Regions from separate parts of the Homo sapiens genome. Here region 2 is linked to region 1. The links come from fine-mapping of genetic effects on plasma protein levels. A gene starts in region 1. The other region holds a variant in brackets. All regions are shown on one strand. Distances are from middle to middle.

What was found. A credible set is the group of variants that fine-mapping cannot tell apart. PIP is the chance, under the fine-mapping model, that this variant and not a neighbour inherited with it causes the effect. Protein levels are from the aptamer-based SomaScan assay of Sun 2018.
Region 2: its variant is the best candidate, but not a certain one, in a credible set for the plasma level of the NTN4 protein (Sun 2018, PIP 0.69). The variant lies in the coding sequence of NTN4. If it changes the protein, the assay may bind it differently, which can mimic a change of level.

The regions. Positions count from the first base shown.
Region 1 is chr12:95,788,766-95,793,289 of GRCh38, reverse strand. It overlaps NTN4 (netrin 4), which reads left to right and starts at 2,526. Exons shown (of 10, transcript NM_021229.4): 1 at 2,526-3,035. The coding sequence starts at 2,981. It also overlaps the pseudogene RNU6-247P.
Region 2 is chr12:95,736,062-95,740,061 of GRCh38, reverse strand. It overlaps NTN4 (netrin 4), which reads left to right. Exons shown (of 10, transcript NM_021229.4): 3 at 1,918-2,196. Among named protein-coding and RNA genes, the nearest start is that of NTN4, 53 kb to the left of the region's middle. The variant T/C (reference allele first, on the strand shown) is at 1,945.

The DNA.
Region 1 (4,524 bases):
TTATCAATTTTGTGGTTTCTGGGAATTGTTATTGAAATTCTGTAAGTTTGCTAAGCTTCCTACTAATTCATAAAATTACAAAATATTCTGAATCCATGACTGATGTTTTCAAAAACAAAATCATAGGCAATAATATACTTATCCAAGATTTTTCTTATGTAGGTAACCTTTTCTTGGATAGCTTCTTCAAAATGAAAATATCCTTTGTAACTAAACTGGACTATATAAGCAAATGATGTTTATTAGAATGCTGACTATTTTTCTCTCCTGAGCTTTTCATATAGATAGTATTGGTGTCGAATGTGCAGATTCCTTTTGAATATGGGAAATCATTGTGATATAACTGGTTTTCTCCTTAGTCCTTAGTCTCCTTAGCCCCTTAGTATATAACAATAGTTTTAACACAACTCAGTCAAAAACATGTAATGAACACTTATTGTAGGTGTTCTTGGCTAAGAATAAGGAAAAATATCAGAAAAACATAGTAATGTTTTGTATAAACTGAATATTAAAGACTGTTCTACCATTAGAGAGCTTTCTGTCTTGTTAAAGGAAATAAGAGCCAGTTATTCAGCAAAGAAATATATTATCAATGCAGGATTCGTGCAGACAGTAAATGGCTTTGAAATTTGTAATGAGATATGGAGTAGTTCTGTGATTGCTTTGGCAGCACATATGCTAAAATTGGAACAATACAGAGAAGATTAGCATGGCCTCTGCATGAGAATGGCATACAAATTTGTGAAGCATTCTATATTTTTAGCAATATATTGTACTCTTGAAAAATGCTAAGACAGTGAGTGTATTCTTAAATGCATGTTAATATGCAAAAATGCATATGTTCATTGGCTAGATTTAGTCATTCCACGCTGTATACATATTTCAAAACATCATGTTGTACATGATAAATACATACAAGTTTATTTGTTAATTAAAAAACAGAAATGGATTAGTTCTGCCTAAATATACTAGACTCAGAAGTTAATAATAAATGTGCATCCACCCCTTTGTTTAATTTGCCTTGGCTATTAAGTTAACATTTATGCTAAGAACCTTTGGCTGTTATAGTTTCCTATCATTTATTTGGTAAAAAGATTAATTGGAGAGGTGTTTCAATGGCTCCATTAGGAGATATGAAGAAAGCCCCACCATTGCCAGTATTTGGGAACTCAAAGCGTTTATTTTCTAAAGCAGGTGATGCTACATGAATTGCTGTCCACACCTTCTGCTACTTTCCTCTGTTGGCCAGAAGAATAATTTTAATGTCGCCCAAATGGATTATGCTGACCTCAACCCAGATCCCCCTGGGAGATATAAACTTCTTATATGTTCCTGGCTGGGTCATTGTAAATAATATCTACATGTATCCCAAAGCTCTGAATTATCCTCATCTGTAACAGACACAACGACTAAATGGTATCTGGAACGTAGTTAATTTTCTGGAAAATATTCAAAGGAACAAAATGAGCACTGCAATACAAAATTGCTGTCGACTTAACTTTTGCCAGTTTCCCTGGATGTGTAAGTAGAATTATATTTTCACAGAACTTGCAAAAATCTCAGACTCGGCTGCTATTTAATCTCTTTCCAGAAGCACCAGCCCTGAGCAATCCTATCTGCAATTAGCTGCGTGTGGTTGCTACTAAATTGCTCCCCATAAGTTAGTTCCTAACACTGTTTCACAGCACGGCATACTCTATAAAGGGAGAACGCTTGGAAGGACCGAAGAGTTCCCTTTGTCGTGCCCTTGCCCTGCCTCTGGACAACGATGTTCTTACACTGCCGACTAGCTAATCCTGTGACCCTTTTCTTTCAGCACCTTGAGTTTGAGTTAGGCAATACCTCTTACACCAAAGTGGGCACACCTTCGGATCATGTAGGCAGCGATTGTTTAGCCGAGACATCCCCCTACCCCCGCAAAAGGCAGCAGAGAAGCGGCGAACGCCGCTTAGCAGTTGGCGCGCTCTCAGTGCGGGTGACGCGGGGCTGGGTTGGGGTGTTCCGTCCCCGGGTCGTGGGACTCCCCGAGAGGGGGTGGCTGGAGGAGGAGGGAGGGCTTGTTTCGCTGGGGGATGTGGGAAGTAGGCGCTAGCCTGTTTCGCGGTTTTTTAAGCCCCTTGGCATGCCCTGACCTGATCTAGAGGGAGTCTACTGCTCTTAGGAATGTTCCGGGAGAAGGTGGGAGATTGCTTCCCAGGGGAGGCCTGTGGGTGCTGCAGGGCACCAGGGGGGTCACTAGGGAGATGCAGGGCGCGGGCCAGGAGGGGCGCCAGGGCAGCCGGGGGCCAGGCTGAGGCGACCGGGACCAGCGGGCAGCCGGGCGTCGGGGGCGTCGGTCGGGGCGCGGGGGACCCCCCCCCCGGGCGGCAGCGGCAGCGGCGATCCGATCCCGCGGGCTGCGCCGCCCGGGCTGTCAAGCGCGGGGGGCGGGCGGGAGGAAGGGGTGGAGGTGCGAGGGGAGGAGGGCTGGCACCGGAGCGCCGCGGCGTCGGTGCAATAAAAATGCATCGCATGGAACTGCCCGTGGAGAAGGACGGGACGGAGCCGGGGCAGCCAGAAGAGGTGGGAAAAGCGGAGGAGGACGCCCAGGAGGAGGCGGCGGCGGCGGCCGGGAAGTGAAAGGTCTCGCAAAGTTCAGCGGCGGCTGCGGGCGCCGAGCCCCGGGCTAGCGGCAGACGAGCCCGCAGGGCCGCTCCGCGGGGCAGCGCAGCCAGGCCGGCTATGGTCCCGGGGCTCCCGCCGCCCCCCAGGTGCCCGGGACCCGCCAGGCCGGTGCGCGAGGGTCACCCCACCTCCCCGCGCGGTCCCGGCCCCTGGCTCCCAGCTGCCGGCGACCGCTGACCGAGCCCGGCGCCCCAGGAGGAGGAAGAAACCAGGGCCCCGTTCCCTCCCGAGGACGGCGGCGCTTCATCCCGCAGCCCAGAGGTCTCGGCTCCCTCCGGCACCCGCCCGGCCCGGCTGCTCCCGGCTCCTCCCGGCCATGGGGAGCTGCGCGCGGCTGCTGCTGCTCTGGGGCTGCACGGTGGTGGCCGCAGGTGGGTGGTGACGCGGCGGGGCCCCCACCCCTTCCCTCGCTGCTTCTCTAACCCATCTCGGGACTCGGGGGTGCAGGGGAGCCAGGGCTGCGAGCGCAGAGCGCTGCTCCCGAGGGTGAAATGAGTGGCCATGTTCCGCCTCCTTTCCCCGGGGCTCCGCAGTTTCAAATACTATTGATTTATTTTTACAACTGGGATACACATGCGCTTGGATAACCAGCTATCCTGGGTGCGCCCTGCCGGGGATACTGCGACCGGGGTTTCTTTCTTGGTTTGGCTTGTTAAAAAACTGCTTTTCCACTTGGTGAGGGAACAAAGGACCCAGCTCGCCATCCCCCGGCACTTCATGGCCTAAGGAATGATGAGGAGGGGTGGCCCAGCGACCCTGGGCGCGCGTGGGCTGGGGCCGGTCTCTGGTAGAAGCCCATCGCTGGTGTCCCTGACCTGGTGCTGGGTACTAGAGAACCAGGTAAGGACACCTGGGGCAGGGCTGAGCGCCCTCTCCCCGGAGCAGTGACTGGAACGCAGTGGGACTCCTGGCTTGGACGATAGGTGGTGATCACCCCGGGCTTGCATTGAGCTGGCTGGCCGCCCCTGGGGAATTGGTACCCTGGCAGAGACTCTGCGGGAGGTCGGAGGCGGGTCTGCTCCCTGGCTCGGTAACTGGACAACCGGCGTCGGCGTCGGCAGATGCCCTCTCCCTCCCACTCCCATCCTGGCTTTCTTGGGCTGCCCTAGGCCACCGGCTCCTGGCTCGTGGTTTCTGTATTCGGGAGCCCCTTCTGCTCCTCTCCCTCCCTCTTGCGGGTCACCTGGTTTCCAGTTAGGCGTAAGCGCAGCCCTGTAGGTGAGGGGGAGAGATGTGAGGGAGTCTGCAGACATCCAGTCTCTCGTGCGGATCTTGACTGCTTCAGAAAGGGGCGCCTGGGCTAGAGGGATGCGCTGGTGGCTACAGAACATTGTAGCACGCATCTCCTCCCTTGGGCTTCCACTCTTCCCTGAGGGCCGCTGGCACCCAGCAAAATCCAGGCTTTCCAGTCTGCATCCCAAACCAGTCCAAGTCACAGGAGCATCCTTAGTATCATTGAATAGTCCCTTGAGTGACTCCAAGTATTTTGCCCCATGGATTCTTTATCTGGCTCAAATCTTTTCTGGACTTAGGAGTTTAGGGGCATTTAAAATTATTGGATATTTTTCCCAGGGACCTATTAAAGGCCTAAGATTTTACTTTAATTCTTGCACTCTTAAAATATGAGCTTTAAAAAAAACCTTTTCCTTCTCAAACCATATTATGGCAAAAACATGCAAGCCATTGAAAGGTTGTAAATAAACATCACAAGGCAAGTGTTTCAAGTCAAAAATACTTGTACAGGCAGTATATGATTTTCCTTGAAATTTTTTACAGGTGAGTCATAGCACATTGTGTGTTTGTGTGCTTCTGGCCACAAGCAACTGTTGCCCCAGCTAATGAGAAAAGTGGCAAACAGAA
Region 2 (4,000 bases), 53 kb after region 1:
CCCTTCCCTACTGATATCCGCGTGCCAACTGTGGTGTCATGCACACCAAGCACAGAGCCGCCATTCAGCTCCCACTGTCTGGGCTCAGGAAGCAGAAGAGCTTCAAAGTTCCTACAGACCTTGACAGAGCTTCCTCTGGCTTTGCCTGTGCGGAACAATTCTGAGGGTGAGGGGGAGATGGAATGGGGTGAGAGAGGGAACTAGGGTAAATGTCAAGGGTAAATACGTGGCAGAGACAGAGAGAGACCAAACAGTTGCCACCGAGGCTCAGGAAAAGGAAGGGTGGGCAGATAACGAGGAGAAGGACACCACAGACTTTTCAGTGGAGCTCTTACTTGGTTAGCACTGGTGTGTCCTTTTCCATGTCCTTGCATTACTGTGGTTGATAAAATAGGAGGTAGCACTTTACTGATATCATTTAGAGCAAGGGTTCTTCCTGTCTAACAGAAATGTCAGTGTTTGGAGGTCACGTTGAGAATCAGTTCCATATAAAGCCCATAATGGATTCAATTTTTAAAAAATGCTTCGAAACAGAAAATCATGTTCTAGCTGTTGTTAAAAGAAAAAGATGTTACTTCTGTACTGACTTTTGAATATATGACATATTGTTTGTTGGAAAATTTTATTTTCTGATAAGCTTCCTTCCACCACTTTGCATGTGGATAAATGGGACAGAATGTGGTTTGAGTTTAAGATACAATGTTGTTTAAGCTTTAAAAGTTCAAAAATAGCTAGAAATACAAATACCGGTTAATCCGTTATTTCTTATTATTGTCATAATACTGGTGTTTAACGTGAAATTCAGTATGCGAATGAATTTAGACCCGACATAAGGAAGTTATTTGGAATTCTCACCTATTACACAAATGCCAAGAACAATGTTAAATTAATTAATTTGTTTACCAAAAATTTATTGAATACTTACTATGTGCCAGCCACTGTCCTGGGATACATACGTGACCGCCTACATGAAGTTTTTGGTCTGGACTGGGAAGATAGTAAATCACTAAACCACTACAAATATAATGTCAGATGGTGATAAGTACTAAGAACAGAAACCAGGCAGAGCCATTATAAGGACCTTGCATCTTGTTCTGAGGAGAATGGGAGGTCTTCAGGTGGGGGTGGTTTAAGCAAGGGAGTGACACGATCCAATCTCTGTTTATAGAGAACCACTCTGGCTACTGGCTAGACCATGAGCTGCAGAGGCCAAATGTCTGCTGAATTATTACCCTCTCCCCCACAGTTATATTTCACTGAGGACAGGTCTGTACCAGTAGACCTTGGACATGTGACACAGTCGATTCTTTCCTTTTCATACTTTTGGTATGAAATTGATCTCTAAGGTGATACTTTTATATCCAAAAAGAGAGAGTTATATTTTTAGGCAAGGTAAATCAGATATCACCTCTCTGCCTACAGTGTCCCAGTGGCTTCCGCTACAGTCAGCATAACTCTACTGTGACTTCCACAGGGCTCCATTCATGTCTATCTCACACCTGCTCTCTGTCCGCCTCTCCAGCCACTCTCTCTTTGTTCACTGGTCTCCAGTCACACTGACTTCGTTGTTCTTCCTTGAGCAAGCCAAGCTTGACTCTGCCTCAAAGCCTTTAAGCTTGCTCTTCCCTCGCCCAGAATGCTCTTCCTGGCAAGATCTTTGTATGGCTGCCTTTATCTCAAGGGTCAGGTCTCTGCTGGTCACTCAATGTATACTTCTGTGTACAAACAGGCAGCACATCTGCTCCTTAGAATAACAGGGCGGCTCTGTCCCAGGTGTGCTCAAGGTCTAAAAACTTCTTGTTATCTTATCGTTCACAGATGACATAAGGCATAAATCAAACAGGGACTACATTAGGCAAACAATTCAGGGTTTGCGCACAGTCCTATAAACGCATGGTATTTTCTTTCTCCTTACAGGTTATTTTCAAAGCTTTGTCACCACCA[T/C]ACGATACAGAGAACCCTTACAGTGCCAAAGTTCAGGAGCAGCTGAAGATCACCAACCTTCGCGTGCAGCTGCTGAAACGACAGTCTTGTCCCTGTCAGAGAAATGACCTGAACGAAGAGCCTCAACATTTTACACACTATGCAATCTATGATTTCATTGTCAAGGGCAGCTGCTTCTGCAATGGCCACGCTGATCAATGCATACCTGTTCATGGCTTCAGACCTGTCAAGGCCCCAGGAACATTCCACATGGTAGGTGAAACAAGTCCTCCCCTAAGAAAAACAAATCATAAGTTACCTTCAGCTTTGGGCATTGGTTGGTATATGCTTAACATAGTGCTGCTGATTTTTTCCTCTGCCCATCACAGCTCCGACTCCATACTCATCCTATAAAGTGCCTGTTAACTTGTCTTTTAATCTTCAGTTTTAGAGTTGTAGTCAAGCCTGATAACCAGATTCCTTGGAAAACACCCATGCCAGTTTTTAGTACTGTGACCTTCAGATATAAAGTGTAAAGTGAGCAGGAGTGAGAGGATGGCATGATTATATTAGTGGTATTATCACACACAAGCCAGCTTTGACAGTAAATGGGGACCATTGTGGAGTAGATTTTAAAGTTGGAAAAATAAGAACCTCGATTTTATGCCTGGTATCTTTGCTGTCCAGCCAGCAGAATGAATAAAAATTCTCCTCCATGAAGAGGACTGACCCCCTCTTCACCTAAGGCAGAGTTAAACTCTCTTTCCTCTAGGTTCACACATCTCCTGGGCTTTCCTCTGAATTTTTACTTCTCTGCATCCCCCAGGAGACCACGAACTCTCTGAGGAACTGTATGATCTTTGTATCCTCAGGACCAAGTGTATTACCTGGGCCAGAAGTAGGTGCTCAGTAGGTGTTTGGTTGAATGATAGCAACATAGGAATAGGGAGATGATGAAAAATTAGTGTCATTGTTTATCTGTCCTTACCTCCCCGACTTCCAGAAAAGATACAGAGTGGCTCAGCAGTAAGCACCTTGTTGGGACACATCCAGAGACTATGGATGGGGATTGGGCAAGGAGAAAATAAGGATGAGCGCTCCAATTATTTGATTTTCTATTTTGCTCTGATACTTCTGAGCAAACCAAAGCAAAATGAATAAAATGGAAAAGGCTGCAGAATATGCTACTGCATTTCCTAAAGGATAGACATCCCTATTCTTTCTTCTTTCTCTCAGCCCTAGTATACGATAGGCCACCAGCAGCCATGATCCAGTTAGCCAGCAGGACAGTTTGTGCTGGCTGGGCTGAGTCGCTGGGGCAGCATCAGGGTAACTAAAATGACTAGGACAGTAGCCAGAAAGTAACCAAAATAGAAACAGTGCTATTACTTGTAGAAGTTAATCCAGGCTCCCAGAGTTGAAGAAAATGCAGCATTCATTCAACAGATACCTGCTAGTTTCTAGACACTGATGGATCTTTGAAATCCTACAGTATTGTTTCAAATAAAGGGTGCTATGATTTAGTGTATCTCAGTTAACTGGGTTCAGGTAGGATTCAATCAGAAAATAACAAATATTTAGAGACATGTCAACCTACCAGACTGTGAACTAGAAAGTTTATGTGAGGTAGAGTGCTCAAAATATTTTGCCATGACATTTTAGTGAATTTGTGAAAGGAGAGCATGCAGATCTTTTGTTTCCTCGACTGTCTCTTATAATCCAAGCCATACAGGACCACCTCAGAGTAGAGTCCTGAGCAAAATGACAGAGGCCCCCATAACATGGCACAGGGTGGACCCTCAATATTTGTGGACTGAAGGACCTATGAGACTACCTGCATGGCTCTGATCAACCACAACAAAGTGCCAGAGTTCTCAAGGGCCTTATAAAAACTTCAGGTGGCCGGGCACAGTGGCTCACACCTGTAATCCCAGCACTTTGGGAGGCCAAGGCGGGTGGATCACCTGAGGTCAGGAGTTCCAGACCAGCCTGGCCAACACAGCAAAACCCCATCTCTACTAAAAATACAAAAATTAGCTGGGCATAGTGGTGGGCGCCTGTATTCCCTGCTGCTCGA